Linked DNA regions of Homo sapiens. The protein of the gene in region 1 binds, or shares a complex with, the protein of each later gene. Each region holds a gene or a part of one and is shown on either strand. Other genes may lie near its edges.

Region 1 (7,040 bases):
AAAGCTGCTTCTAGTTTAATATGTTCTTTTAATTGTTGAATGTTAAAGAATTTTGTATTTTAAGTTACTGGCATGAGATACACAGGTAATGGTTATGGTTATTCTTATCAAATACGGATTAACTGCTTGAAATTATTACGGATAATAAGGTATATATCTAAATAAGTGGGTAATTTGGTGGCCAAACTAAGGTGTAGCACATAGAGAAAAAAAGCTACTTTTTTACCACATTATTCATGAAATTTTCCAAGGTACCCCCTTTACTAAAAATGATTTGCTTATTCTTGAGATACTTCATGGTGAAGTTGTTTTAACTAATTTATTCTGTTAACCTCATTTTCATTTCAGTATCTCTTTATTGGAAATTGTTTTGTAACTGTTTTTGTGATCTTTTTTTTTTTTTTTTTGAAGAGATGAGGTCTTGCTATGTTGTCCAGGCTGGCCTCCAACTCCTGGGCTCTCAAGCAGTCCTAGTGCCACAGCCTCTCAAGTATCTTGTCCTCCTATTTTTGTCTCCTCTTTTAAACTTAAGCATTATGCTTCGGATAGTCTAAAATAATTGATTATATAAAACTGATTCGTTTTGACTCCAGAGTACATTAGGCTAATACTTTCTTATTTGATTTTCCTTTCTAAATAGCCTTGCTTGGCTGGGCACTGTGGCTCACGCCTGTAATCCCAGCACTTTGGGAGGCCGAGGTGGGCAGATCACCTGAGGTCGGGAGTTTGAGACCAGCCTGACCAACATGGAGAAACCCTGTCTCTACTAAAAATACAAAATTAGCCGGGTATGGTGGTGCATGCCTGTAGTCCCAGCTACTCGGGAGTCTGAGGCAGGAGAATTGCTTGAACCTGGGAGGCAGAGGTTGCGGTGAGCTGAGATCGAGCCATTGCACTCCAGCCTGGGCAACAAGAGCGAAACTGTCTCAAAAAAATAATAAATAATAGCCTTGCTTATGCTAATATGATTAATTTACATTTCTTAGTACAGTTTTGTAGTTAAAGTAAACTCCTCATGATAGGCTGTGAGAAGATAATCTTGGATTCAGAAGTTTGTCTAAAAATTCATGGAGGATGAACTTCCTTTGTGCTGGTAAGAGCTGGCTGTAGGGCAGTTGTTTCCAAGTTGTTCCTCTGGCCAGTAGTATCGGTACCACCTGGTAATTTGTTAGAAAGAGATTCTTATCCCTACTACAAATGTGCTGAATAAGAAACTGGGTCTTGGGCCCAGCAGTTTGTTTAACACGTCCTTCAGCTGATTTTGATGCGTGGTAAAGTTTTAGACCATTACTATGGGGTATTATAATAAAAGAGACCCCTTTCTTGATTTCTAGTGAATGGCGTTTGGGACAGTAATTGACTTAGGATTTTTTTTTCTTAATTGACTGGCATGGAAAAGAAATGCTGTTTGTATTCTCAGGTGCAGATTTTGCATCCTGAATGAAAGTAATGGATACTCATAAGTGAGTAATTAAAATAGCATGTAGGAACTTTTATCTTGAAATTTAATTTTCTTTCAGGAGGCAAAACCTTCAACTGAGGACTTGGGGGATAAGAAGGAAGGTGAATATATTAAACTCAAAGTCATTGGACAGGTGAGTTTCATTGTTTTTCTCTTTTGAGTCCCCTTCAATGTGAATACTTTTTCACAGGAAAAAAAATTATTTAAGGCAAATTATTTTAAAATGACTATGTATGCATTTTAATTTACTGTGTATGCATCTGTTAGAGGTAGAAGAGGCCGATACTGTTTTTTAAATTACTCTGCCAGGCAGTTTTAGATCATCTTAATTTTTCCAAATAGGAATGTTTTCTTGGTTAGTGTGCTTCAGGGGCAAATACAGTGAATACTATTAAGTGTTAAGGCTAGGGCCAACCTTAAGTAAAAGGTTTATCAGCCCTTTTCCTGACCCTTTTCTGGCCCCCTATTTCCCTAGACTCTAGTCTGTATCTTTTTTTTTTTTGAGATGGAGTCTTGTTCTGTCACCCAGGCTGGAGTGCAGTGGTGCGATCTCGGCTCACTGCAAGCTCCGCCTGCCGGGTTCACGCCATTCTCCTGCCTCAGCCTCCCAAGTAGCTGGGACTACAGGCGCCCGCCACCATGCCCGGCTAATTTTTTTTGTATTTTTAGTAGAGACGGGGTTTCACTGTGTTAGCCAGGGTGGTCTTGATCTCCTGGCCTCGTGATCCGCCAGCCTCGGCCTCCCAAAGTGCTGGGATTACAGGCGTGAGCCACCGCGCCTGGCTCTAGTCTGTATCTTATTGATTCTGAAATGTTAATTAAGGTTAGCTAACAACCGTTGGAGGAATGAATCTACATAGTTACGTGGGTTTTCTAAAGGACAAAAGACAGAGAATTGGTGGAAGGGTGGACTCGCCCAGGATGGAGTGCAGTGGTATTTCTATTGAAGTGTGACAGTACCATTTCCCTATATTCTCCCAAACATGGGATATTAACAGTCTTTAAATTTTGTTCAAATATGCTAGGTAAAACATTTTTGTTTATTTTTCATTTACCTGATTATTAATAAGGTATAATTTTTTTGGTCTGTTACATTTATATTCTTCTGTTAATTGTGTTCATACCCTTTTCCCATTTTTCTGTGATTATCTTATTTTGAAGACTTTTATTTTTTATTTTCAAAATTTTTTAAATTTAAATTTTATTTTGAAATGGAGTTGTGCTCTTGTTGGCAGGCTGGAGTGCAATGGCGTGATCTTGGCTCACTGCACCCTTCACTCCTGGGTTCAGGTGATTCTCCTGCCTCAGCCTCCCGAGTAGCTGGGACTACAGGTGCCTGCCACGAAGCCTGACTAATTTTTTTAAAAAATATTTTTAGTAGAGACGGGGTTTCCCCATGTTGGCCAGGCTGGTCTCGAACTCCTGACCTCAGGTGATCCCCACCCGTCTCGGCCTCCCAGAGTTCTGGGATTACAGGTGTGAGCCACCATGCCGGCTTTATTTTGAAAACTTTTAAAAGATAAAATTCACATACTATAAAATTCACTATTTTAAAGTATATAATTCAGGGGCTTTAGTATTATTCACAAGTGTGTGCAGCCATCACCACTACTAATTCCAGAACATTTGCATTACCCCAAAAAGACACCCTGTACCCATTAGCAGTCATTCCCCATCCTATTTCCTCCAGCCAGTGACAACCATGATTCTACTTTCTGTCTCTATAGGTTTGCCTTTTGTGGACATTACATATAAATGGAATCATAAGATATATGGCTTTTTTTTTTTTTTTTTTTTTTTGAGGCAAGGGTCTCGCTGTGTCACCCAGGCTGGAGTGCAGTGGCCTGATCTCAACTCACTGCGACCTCAACCTCCTGGGTTCAAGCGACCCTCCTGCCATAGCCTCCTGAGTAGCTGGGATTTCAGGTGTGCACCACCATGCCCAGCTAATTTTTGTATTTTTAGTAGAGATGGGGTTTCGCCATGTTGGCCAGGCTGGTCTCAAACTCCTGACCTCAGATGATCCGCCTACCTCGGCCTCCCACAGTGTTGGGATTACAGGCATGAGCCACCATGCCTAGCTTTGATATGTGACTTTTTATTCTGGTTTGTTTCTTCTTTTCTGCCTTGCTTCCCTGTTCCTCTTCCCCTCCCTCCCCTCCCCCCCTCCCCATCCCCGTCTCCCTCTCCAGGGTTCTCGCTATGTTGCTCAGGCTGGTCTTGAACTCTTGGGCTTAAGTGATTCTCCCTCTTTGGCCTAAAGTTCTGGGATTATAGGTGTGAGCCACTATGCCTGGCCTGGCTTCTTTGTTTTAGCATGTTTTCAAGGTTCATTCATGCTGTAGCATGTATCAGTACTATATTCCTTTTAATGGCTGAATTCTGTTCCATTATATGGGTAGAATATATTTTGTTTTCCATTTATCAGTTGATATTTAGTTTGTCCCCATATTTTGGCTACTATTAATAATGTTGCTGTGAACATTCATGTGTGTTTTTGTATGGACATATGTTTTCAGCTCCCTTGGATATATACCTAGGAGTGGAATTGCTGGGTCTAGTATGCAACTATATGTTTTACTTTTTGAGGAACTGCCAAACTGTTTTCAGCAGTGGCCCTACCATCTTACATTCCTAGCAGCAACATATGAGGGTTTCAGTTTTTCCATATTCTGGTCAACACTTGTAATTATCCGTATTTTTGGTTATAATCCTAGTGGGTGTGAAGTGGTATCTCACTGTGGTTTCAACTTGCTCTTTCCTGATGGCTAATGATGCCAAGCATTTTTTTATGTACTTATTGGCCATTAGTACATCTTCTTTGGAAAAATGAAGTTCTTTAGATCTTTTGCCCATTTTTAAATTGGGTTAGTTGTCTTTTTATTGTTGAGTGGTAATATGTCTTTTATTCTGGGTATTAGACCTTTATCATATATATGATTTGCATGGATTTTCTCCTATCTTTGAGTTGTCTTTTCACTTTCTTGGTTTTATTCTTTGCAGCGTAAAGTTTTTAATTTTGGTAAATTAAGTTCATCTGTTTTTTCTTTTGTTGCTTGTAATTTATCTAAGAAACCATTACCTAATCCAGGGTCACAAAGGTTTACGCTTGTGGTTTAAGAGTTTTAAGGCTGGGCACAATGGCTCACACCTGTAATCTCAGCATTTTGGGAGGCCAAGGTGGGCAGATTGCTTGAGCTCAGGAGCTGGAGACCAGCCTGGGCAACATGGCGAAACCCCATCTCTACAAAAAATATAAAAAATTAGTAGGGCGTGGTGGCACATGCCTGTAGTCCCAGCTACTCAGGAGGCTGAGCAGGGAGAATCACTTGAGCCTGGGAGGTCAAGGCTGCAGTAAGCTGTGATCACGTGACTGTACTCCAGTCTGGGTGACAGAGTGAGACCCTGTCTCAAAAAAAAAAAAAAAAAAGTTTTATGGTTTTATTTATAGTTTTAGCTCTTACATTTAAATCTTTCATCATTTTGAATAATTTTTTATGGGTGTTTGTCCCAGACCATTAGTTGAAAAGACTGTCCTTTTCTCACTGAATTGTTCTGGTATCCTTGTCAAAAAATTGACTATAGATATAAGGGTTTTTTCTTGGCTCTCAATTTTATGCCATTGATCTATCTATATGTCCATATGCCATGGAATGTCTTTTTAAGAATTATTAATTTGTGGGATTTTTAAAAATATTGTCTTCATTTTCCTTGTCTGTTACATGTTATGAATATTTCCTCCAGTATGTCTTAACTTTTGTTTATGGCATCTTTTACTATACAGACGTTTTATGTTTTTATTAAGTCAAATTTATCCACCTCTTTTTTTTATGGTTTCTAGGTTAAAATCATGCTTTGCAATAGGGCATCCCAAGGCCAAAATTAGGGGAAAAAAATTCTCCCTTGAGGGGAAAATATTGAGAATTTTTTTTTTTTTTTTTTTGATGTGGAGCCTTGTCCTGTCATGCAGGCTGGAGTGCAGTGGTACTTCCGGCTCACTGCAACATCCGCCTCCCAGGTTCAAGCACTTCTCCTGCCTCAGCCTCCCGAGTAGTTGGGATTACATGCAACTGTCACCACACCCGGCTAATTTTTTATATTTTTAGTAGAGATAGGGTTTCATCATGTTGGCCAGGCTGGTCTTGAACTCCTGACCTCGTGATCTGCCCGGCTTGACCTCCCAAAGTGTTGGGATTACAGGAGTGAGCCACTGCACCTGGCCAAAAAAATTTTAATGTTAGCTCTTTAATTCATCTGCAAGTGATTTTTTTTTTTTTTTTTTGAGATGGCGTCTCACTCTGTTGCCCAGGCTGGAGTACAGTGGCGAGATCTAGGTTCACTGCAGCCTCCGCGTCCTGGGTTCAAGCGATTCTCCTGCCTCACCCTCCCGAGTAGCTGGGATTACAGGCATGCGCCACCACGCCTGGCTAATTTTTTTGTATTTTTAGTAGAAATGGCGTTCACCATGTTGGTCAGGCTGGTCTCGAACTCCTGAACTCAAATGATCCTCCTGCTTTGGCCTCCCAAAGTGTTGGGATTATAGGCATGAGCCACCATGCCCAGCCTGGAATTGATTTTAATGTATAGCATGAGGTTTGCTGTAGAATTTTATCTGTTTATGAAATGATCTATGTGAAGATAATTTTATTTCTTCATAGTTACAGTCACAAGAAAAATACTGTAAATGTGCAGCTTCTGCAAATACACATTTGTGAATGTGATATGTAGTCATGAAGTTTGGCTTTGAAAGTTTACATTATGCAAGTAACAGTATTTTTTCTGAGGATTGGCTGGCTGATAGTTTGTTTCACAATCTGAGCAGAATAAAATAATTTTTGGTCTCACAAATCAGTTTGACTAACTCAGGTTCTTACTCATTTTACTCATGTGAGAGAAACCAGATTCCATGTGGTGATTTTTTTTTTTTTTTTTTTTTTGAGATGGAGTACTGTTCTGTTTCCCAGGCTGGAGTGCAGTGGCGTGTTCTTGGCTCACTGCAACCTACACCTCCTGGGTTCAAGCAATTCTTCTGCCTCAGCCTCCTGAGTAGCTGGGACTACAGGTGTGTGCCACCATGCCTGGCTAATTTTTGTATTTTTAGTAGAGACGGGGTTTCACTATACTGGCCAGGCTGGTCTTGAACTCCTGACCTTGTGATCCGCCTGCCTTGGTCTCCCAAATTGCTGGGATTACAGGCATGAGCCACTGCGCTCAGCCCCATGTGGTGATTTTTTATGGCAGGAATAAATTTCTCAGTCGCTTATTGTATAAAATTGAATTTTATACAATTAATTATTATCTAATTAACTGCTTTTCTCCTAGGCGACCACCTTCAGTGACACTTCACTTGGGGGGACAGACTTTTTGTTTTGAGTTGCTATTGGGATAAATAAAAGATGCGATAGTTCATCTTTTATTTTGACAATAGAATGGCAAATGAAGGAATGCATTTACTTAGACTTTTACTTATACTGATAATTTTAACACTCAAGACTGATTAACTTTGTTTTACTCGGTTTCTTTTGTAATGGGTATACAGTAACTTTGAGGATGATTACACTGTTTTAAGAAAACCTGT
Region 2 (7,040 bases), about 93 Mb from region 1:
CCAGATAATTTAGAGTTTCAATCTTATTTTCTCTAATGTCTCAAAGCTTGCCAAATTAATTATTCACTTACAGTAACATTACTGTAGGCCCAGTTATGACCTGTGAGACCCAGATATTGATATATTACAAATACTTTTACAAGTGGGTGATTCTAATGTGTTCCCAGGGTAGAGAACCACTATTTTGAAATAATTTTGAATTCTTCTGCCACATGTCCCTTGGGGTTATTTTTTAAATTTTTGCTTTTGGCAAAAAAGTTGCTGAACAATTTTGTTTTTGTTTTTGTTTTTGAGACAGGATGTCACTCTGTTGCCCAGGCTGGAGTGCAGTGGCATGAACACAGCTCACTGCTGCCTTGACCTCCTGGGCTCTAAAGCAATCCTTCCACCTCAGCTTCCCAAGTAGCTGGGACCACAGGTGTGTACCACCATGCCTAGCTAATTTTTACATTTTTTGTAGAGACAGGGGTCTCACTATGTTACCCAGGCTGGTCTCAAACTCCTGGGCTCAAGCAGTCCTGCCACCTTGGCCTTGCACAGTGCTGGGATTGTAGGCATGAGCCACTGCACCTGGCCCTGAACAGTTATTTTTGAGCCCCCAAGTTGGTATCTCATCCAGATCAGTGGTTACTGTTCTCAGGAAGTTCCCATGCAACCTGTGGCTTTTGTTCTCAGATCATTCCTTTGCAATATGTCCTTAAGAATTTTTGTCTTTCTGTCTCTTTTTTTTGAGACGATCATTCTGTTGCCCAGGCTGGAGTGCAGTGGCGCAGATCTCAGTTTACTGCAACCTCTGCTTGCTAGGTTCAAGTGATCTCCTGCCTCAGCCTCCTGAGTAGCTGGGATTACAGGCATGCACTGCAACACCCCGCTAATTCTTTTAGTATTTTTAGTAGAGATGGGGTTTCGCCATGTTGGCCAGGCTTGTCTCGAACTCCTGACCTCAAGTGACCAGCCCGCCTCGGCCTCCTAAAGTGCTGGGATTACAGGCATGAGCCACCACACCCGGCCCTCTCTCCTCTTTAAAAACATTTTTTTTTCCCCTCCATTAAATCTGTCTGAAAGAGAGTTGATTTTTTATTGTGTTCTTTAAGGTACTGAGTTATGTATCCTGTGACATTTTTTCTTTTTCATGAGAGTTTTTAGCAGAAGGTGTAGGGTTCTTTAAGACAGTGATTCAGCAAGTGATAAAAAGTTGAGAGGTGTTTCTTTCCTCTAAGATAGTGGGGACTTGGTCATCTAAATTGAGGTATGGGATGGAGAAGTTTCTAGTTTTCACCTTCTTGCAGGTATGCGAGAGTGAGACCATCATTGTTCCCCCATACAGAAGTAGGATGCTTAACAATCTAATACCCTTTGGGCAGTTGAAGTCAGTGAGATTCTCCCAAGGCTGCTTTCCACCAGCCCAACCAAGAAATCTACATTCCAGCATTAGCTTCTTCAGGAAGAAGTAGAGATGCAGAAATTATAAACATGTTTAGGCCATTGTGGCTAATTTGGAAGTAGCAGGTTTGGCCTGCTGAGCTAAGTTTACAAAATTTCAAGGTGGGTACTTGAAATTTTAGAAGTAGGTAAAAAGAACCTACTTCTTTACTTGGAAGTCCTTGTGTAGTTTAGTATTAGGAAGTTTATCCAAGGCAGTGACAGTCTTATCTTTGTATCGCTAAGCATAACAATAATAAATGTACTCTGTACTCAACAGTATGAGTTGAATTTACTAGCTTTTTTTTTTTTCCTTTTTTTCCTTTTTTTTTTTGGTGACAGAGTCTTGCTCTGTCACCCAGGCTGGAGTACAATGGCACGATCTCTGCTCATTGCAACCTCCGCCTCCCAAGTTCAAGCGATTCTCCTGCCTTAGCTTCCTGAGTAGCTGGGATTACAGGCACCCGCCACCACGCCCGGCTAATTTTTTTTTTTTTTTTTTTTTTAAAGACAGAGTCTTGCTCTGTCGTCCAGGCTGGAGTGCAGTGGGGCGGTATCTGATCACTGCAACCTCTGCCTCTCAAGTTAAAGTGATTCTCCTGCCCCAGCCTCCTGAGTAGCTGGGATCAGTCACCCATGACCACACACTGCTAACTTTTTTTTTTTTTTTTAAAGACAGAATCTTGCTCTGTTGCCCAGGCTGGAGTGCAGTGGGGCAATCTCAGCTCACTGCAACTTCTGCCCCCCAGGTTGAAGCGATTCTTCTGCCTCAGCCTCTCAAGTAGCTGGGACCACAGGCGCATACCACCACTCCCGGCTTTTCTTTTCTTTCTTTCTTTCTTTTTTTTTTTGAGACGGAGTTTCACTCTTGTTGCCCAGGCTGGAGTGCAATGGTGCCATCTTGGCTCACCGCAACCTCCGCCTCCTGGGTTCAAGCGATTCTCCTGCCCCAGCCTCCCGAGTAGCTGGGATTACAGGCATATGCCACCATGCCTGGTTAATTTTGTATTTTTAGTAGAGACGGGGTTTCTCCATGTTGGTCAGGCTGGTCTTGAACTCCTGACCTCAGGAGATGCGCTCACCTCGGCCTCACAAAGTGCTGGGATTACAGGCGTGAGCCACTGCGCCCAGCCTAATTTTTGTATTATTAGTAGAGATGGGGTTTCACCATGTTGGCCAGGCTGGTCTCGAACCCCTGACCTCAGGTGACCTCGGCCTCCCAAAGTGCTGGGATTACAGGCGTGAGGAATTTACTAGAATAATATAATTTTAAACATTTAAAATTGATGTACATATTACATCATCAGGAATTAGAGGGATTGATAAAATAAGAGGGGGATGAAAAATGTAAAAAATAGATACTAGTGTTTAAATATCCTGATTTATTCATCAGATAAAAATTTCCAATGGGCAAATACTGGAGCAGCTGTGTTTGGAACACAGTCAGTCGGAACCCAGTCAGCCGGTAAAGTTGGTGAAGATGAAGATGGTAGTGATGAAGAAGTAGTTCATAATGAAGATATCCATTTTGAACCAATAGTGTCACTACCAGAGGTAAATGTTAAGGAATTAACCTTTTACTAATAACTTATTTTTCATTTTTAAGTTTTACCCTGGCTTGATCTGTCAGGGTATAATTGTTTGCATTTAAGAATGTTTACTGTTTGAAATGGAAGCTCTATTTATTAGATGTCTAGCCTTTAAGTATAAATTATCTTTTTACAGTTTTTACATAAATATTGGTTTGTAAATTCTATATGTAATTATTGGTAAGAAATAATTTTTTCTTATGTTTCTAGAATATCATGTTTGTTTTTATAACATGATTCTGGGGAAAAATTAACCTCATACTCACTAAAGTCCTTTCAATAAATGTTAACCTTGTATGTTTTTTGGACAAGAACATTGTTCTAGGAAAATTACTTTGTCATTTTTTAACCTCAGTCAGTAGCTAATATTTCTCTTCAGTAGCAAACACTTTTGAAACCTCTCTGTCCTATAAAGAAAAGCATTTAATTTCCAAAGGGAAAATGAATATTATATAAAAGAAAATGTTTAATGATAAATCAGGTCTTTACTCCCTCAGCCAAATCAGATATATTCCTAGCCCTAAGATATATAACCAGTTATCACATTAACAAATTCTCTTTGTCATCACAAAGAAAATGCCTTAAAAGAATTTGGATCTTTGAAATTTGTCATGGAATTTATTATAAGCAGCAGCTTATAGAGAATTTCATCTCCTATTATAGGTAGAAGTAAAATCTGGAGAAGAAGATGAAGAAATTTTGTTTAAAGAGAGAGCCAAACTTTATAGATGGGATCGGGATGTCAGTCAGTGGAAGGAGCGCGGTGTTGGAGATATAAAGATTCTTTGGCATACAATGAAGAATTATTACCGGATCCTAATGAGAAGAGACCAGGTTTTTAAAGTGTGTGCAAACCACGTTATTACTAAAACAATGGAATTAAAGCCCTTAAATGTTTCAAATAATGCTTTAGTTTGGACTGCCTCAGATTATGCTGGTGAGTTTTTACATTCAAATGCTACTTTTCATTTTTTGGACTTTTCTAAAATCTATAACAAACAAAACAACTTATAACAGTTATTTTAATACTAAGGTCACTGCTTCCCCTTTCCCTCCCTGCCAGATGGAGAAGCAAAAGTAGAACAGCTTGCAGTGAGATTTAAAACTAAAGAAGTAGCTGATTGTTTCAAGAAAACATTTGAAGAATGTCAGCAGAATTTAATGAAACTCCAGAAAGGACATGTATCACTGGCAGCAGAATTATCAAAGGAGACCAATCCTGTGGTGTTTTTTGATGTTTGTGCGGACGGTGAACCTCTAGGGCGGATAACTATGGAATTATTTTCAAACATTGTTCCTCGGACTGCTGAGAACTTCAGAGCACTATGCACTGGAGAGAAAGGCTTTGGTTTCAAGAATTCCATTTTTCACAGAGTAATTCCAGATTTTGTTTGCCAAGTAGGTATTATTAAGTACATACCACAATTGAGGTCTTGAAGAGTGCACCACACTAATGGGAAATTTGAGTGTTTTTCCTTGACCTCATCCTGTAGTTTTGTTAAAGATTTCTTTAGGTTTTCCACACATGGAATCACATGGCATCACTACCCATTCCCTGCTCCTGCCTAAAACTTTCAACCTAAAATAATTGAGGCTGGGCACAATGACTCATACCTGTAATTCCAGCACTTTAGGAGGCCAAGGCAGGCAGATTGCTTGAGCCCCGGAATTTGAGACCAGCCTGGGTAACATGGCAAAAATCTCGTCTGGACAAAAAAATACAAAAATTAGCCAGGTGTGGTGGTGTGCGTCTGTGATCCCAGCTACAAGGAAGCTGAGGTGGGAGCATCCAGGAGGCCAAGGCTGCAGTGAGCTAGGTTTGCACCACTGCACTCCATCCTGGGCGACAGAGTGAGACAGCCTGTCATTAAAAAAAAAAAAAAAAAAAAAAAAAAAAATCAAATTTTCAGTACTTGAGATCTAGTAGAAACTAAGGGATGGGAAAAACCTTTTCATTTTTCATCTTCTTTCCAACAATATGAATTTCTTAGTTTTCAAACTATACTCAGGAAAGCTGGGCTTTAGGATTTAACATGTAGTGATGAGTTCTGTGTGTATTTTAATATTTTACTCAGGATTCCTATTAATTGAAAAAAATTTTTAACTTTTTTATTATAAATCTTTTTTTCAGGGAGGAGATATCACCAAACATGATGGAACAGGCGGACAGTCCATTTATGGAGACAAATTTGAAGATGAAAATTTTGATGTGAAACATACTGGTCCTGGTTTACTATCCATGGCCAATCAAGGCCAGAATACCAATAATTCTCAATTTGTTATAACACTGAAGAAAGCAGAACATTTGGACTTTAAGCATGTAGTATTTGGGTTTGTTAAGGATGGCATGGATACTGTGAAAAAGATTGAATCATTTGGTTCTCCCAAAGGGTCTGTTTGTCGAAGAATAACTATCACAGAATGTGGACAGATATAAAATCATTGTTGTTCATAGAAAATTTCATCTGTATAAGCAGTTGGATTGAAGCTTAGCTATTACAATTTGATAGTTATGTTCAGCTTTTGAAAATGGACGTTTCCGATTTACAAATGTAAAATTGCAGCTTATAGCTGTTGTCACTTTTTAATGTGTTATAATTGACCTTGCATGGTGTGAAATAAAAGTTTAAACACTGGTGTATTTCAGGTGTACTTGTGTTTATGTACTCCTGACGTATTAAAATGGAATAATACTAATCTTGTTAAAAGCAATAGACCTCAAACTATTGAAGGAATATGATATATGCAATTTAATTTTAATTCCTTTTAAGATATTTGGACTTCCTGCATGGATATACTTACCATTTGAATAAAGGGACCACAACTTGGATAATTTAATTTTAGGTTTGAAATATATTTGGTAATCTTAACTATTGGTGTACTCATTTATGCATAGAGACTCGTTTATGAATGGGTAGAGCCACAGAACGTATAGAGTTAACCAAAGTGCTCTTCTCTAGAATCTTTACACCTCCTGTGTGGTTACAAGTTAACTTTGTAAGTAGCGTACCTTCCTTCCTTAAAATATCTAGCTTCCTGTGCCCTTTCATAGATATTCGATTAATTTTTACATTTTAAACAAGTTGACTATTTCCTTTAGGGGTTTTGTTTCAAACTTTTCTGTCATCTGTCTCTACTACCTCAGAAACTGCAGCTTGGTTCTGATGATAGAAATTGAATTTTTCCTTGTAGTTATTGTGATAAAGTATGAATATTTTTAGAAAGTCTATACCATGTTCTTTCGTTAAAGATTTGCTTTATACAAGATTGTTGCAGTACCTTTTTCTGGTAAATTTTGTAGCAGAAATAAAATGACAATTCCTAAGAGCCACTGACATCCAAAAAATTCATTACTTACGCTTCGGGTTCATTCTAAAGTAAGGAAGACAATTTAAAGGCAGTAAATTCAAACTGCTGCATAATTTCCAGAGCTCCTAGTTTCTCAAGTTTGATACACACCAAAAACGTATTTGGAAATGGCTTGTATCAAATGTTAGGCAAATTGCTAAAGAAAAGAGGATGTTCTTATTGGCCTACTCAATATGGAACTACAAAGAATCCAGGTAGAACACAAAATTTTGTATATTGCAATTATGAATATTGACTGTCTTCCACCCATCTGTGTTCTTTCGGGTGAAATTACCTCATTTTATTTAGTGAGGAAAGACAGGTTTATTCCCTGTTACATGGGGATTTGGAAATTGGGTATCCTAAAGCAAGTAACTGTTCAACCACCAGTCAAAAGAGGGGAGGGATGTTGTGCGAGTAATGAGTGATGGTATACCATCACCATTCCACTCGGCCACAAAGCCAGATACTTGAAATAAACCTACTCCAAATGTATCAGTTCAGTCTTGAACCATGGATTACATATGTTTACACTAAATATTTCAAATTGGCTTATTTGGAAATCTATGTAATATAAACTGATGTAAAGTGTGTTGTAACTTTTCAGCTGAGACAGTTGATGCCTTCGTCATGATTTTAGAATAAATTCTTAAGTTAATGCAAGTGCTTTTTAAGAGACTT

Evidence for each region. The genes of interacting proteins can lie anywhere in the genome.
Region 2: the proteins of SUMO1 (region 1) and RANBP2 are in contact, whole or in part, in a crystal structure (PDB 1Z5S), measured with the Homo sapiens proteins. Residues at the interface, in NP_001005781.1 of Homo sapiens: Asp30, Ser31, Ser32, Glu33, Ile34, His35, Phe36, Lys37, Val38, Lys39, Thr41, Thr42, His43, Lys46, Leu47, Ser50, Arg54; in NP_006258.3 of Homo sapiens: Asp2631, Val2632, Leu2633, Ile2634, Val2635, Tyr2636, Glu2637, Leu2638, Pro2654, Thr2656, Cys2659.

Annotation. Positions count from the first base shown.
Region 1 is NC_000002.12:202,214,587-202,221,626, reverse strand, and holds part of SUMO1 (small ubiquitin-related modifier 1 isoform a precursor), read left to right. Parts: intron 1-1,520; coding exon 1,521-1,595; intron 1,596-7,040. UniProt on the Homo sapiens protein: Ubiquitin-like protein that can be covalently attached to proteins as a monomer or a lysine-linked polymer.
Region 2 is NC_000002.12:108,778,454-108,785,493, forward strand, and holds part of RANBP2 (E3 SUMO-protein ligase RanBP2), read left to right. Parts: intron 1-2,815; coding exon 2,816-2,976; intron 2,977-3,674; coding exon 3,675-3,948; intron 3,949-4,074; coding exon 4,075-4,409; intron 4,410-5,142; coding exon 5,143-5,448; 3' UTR 5,449-7,040. UniProt on the Homo sapiens protein: E3 SUMO-protein ligase which facilitates SUMO1 and SUMO2 conjugation by UBE2I. Involved in transport factor (Ran-GTP, karyopherin)-mediated protein import via the F-G repeat-containing domain which acts as a docking site for substrates.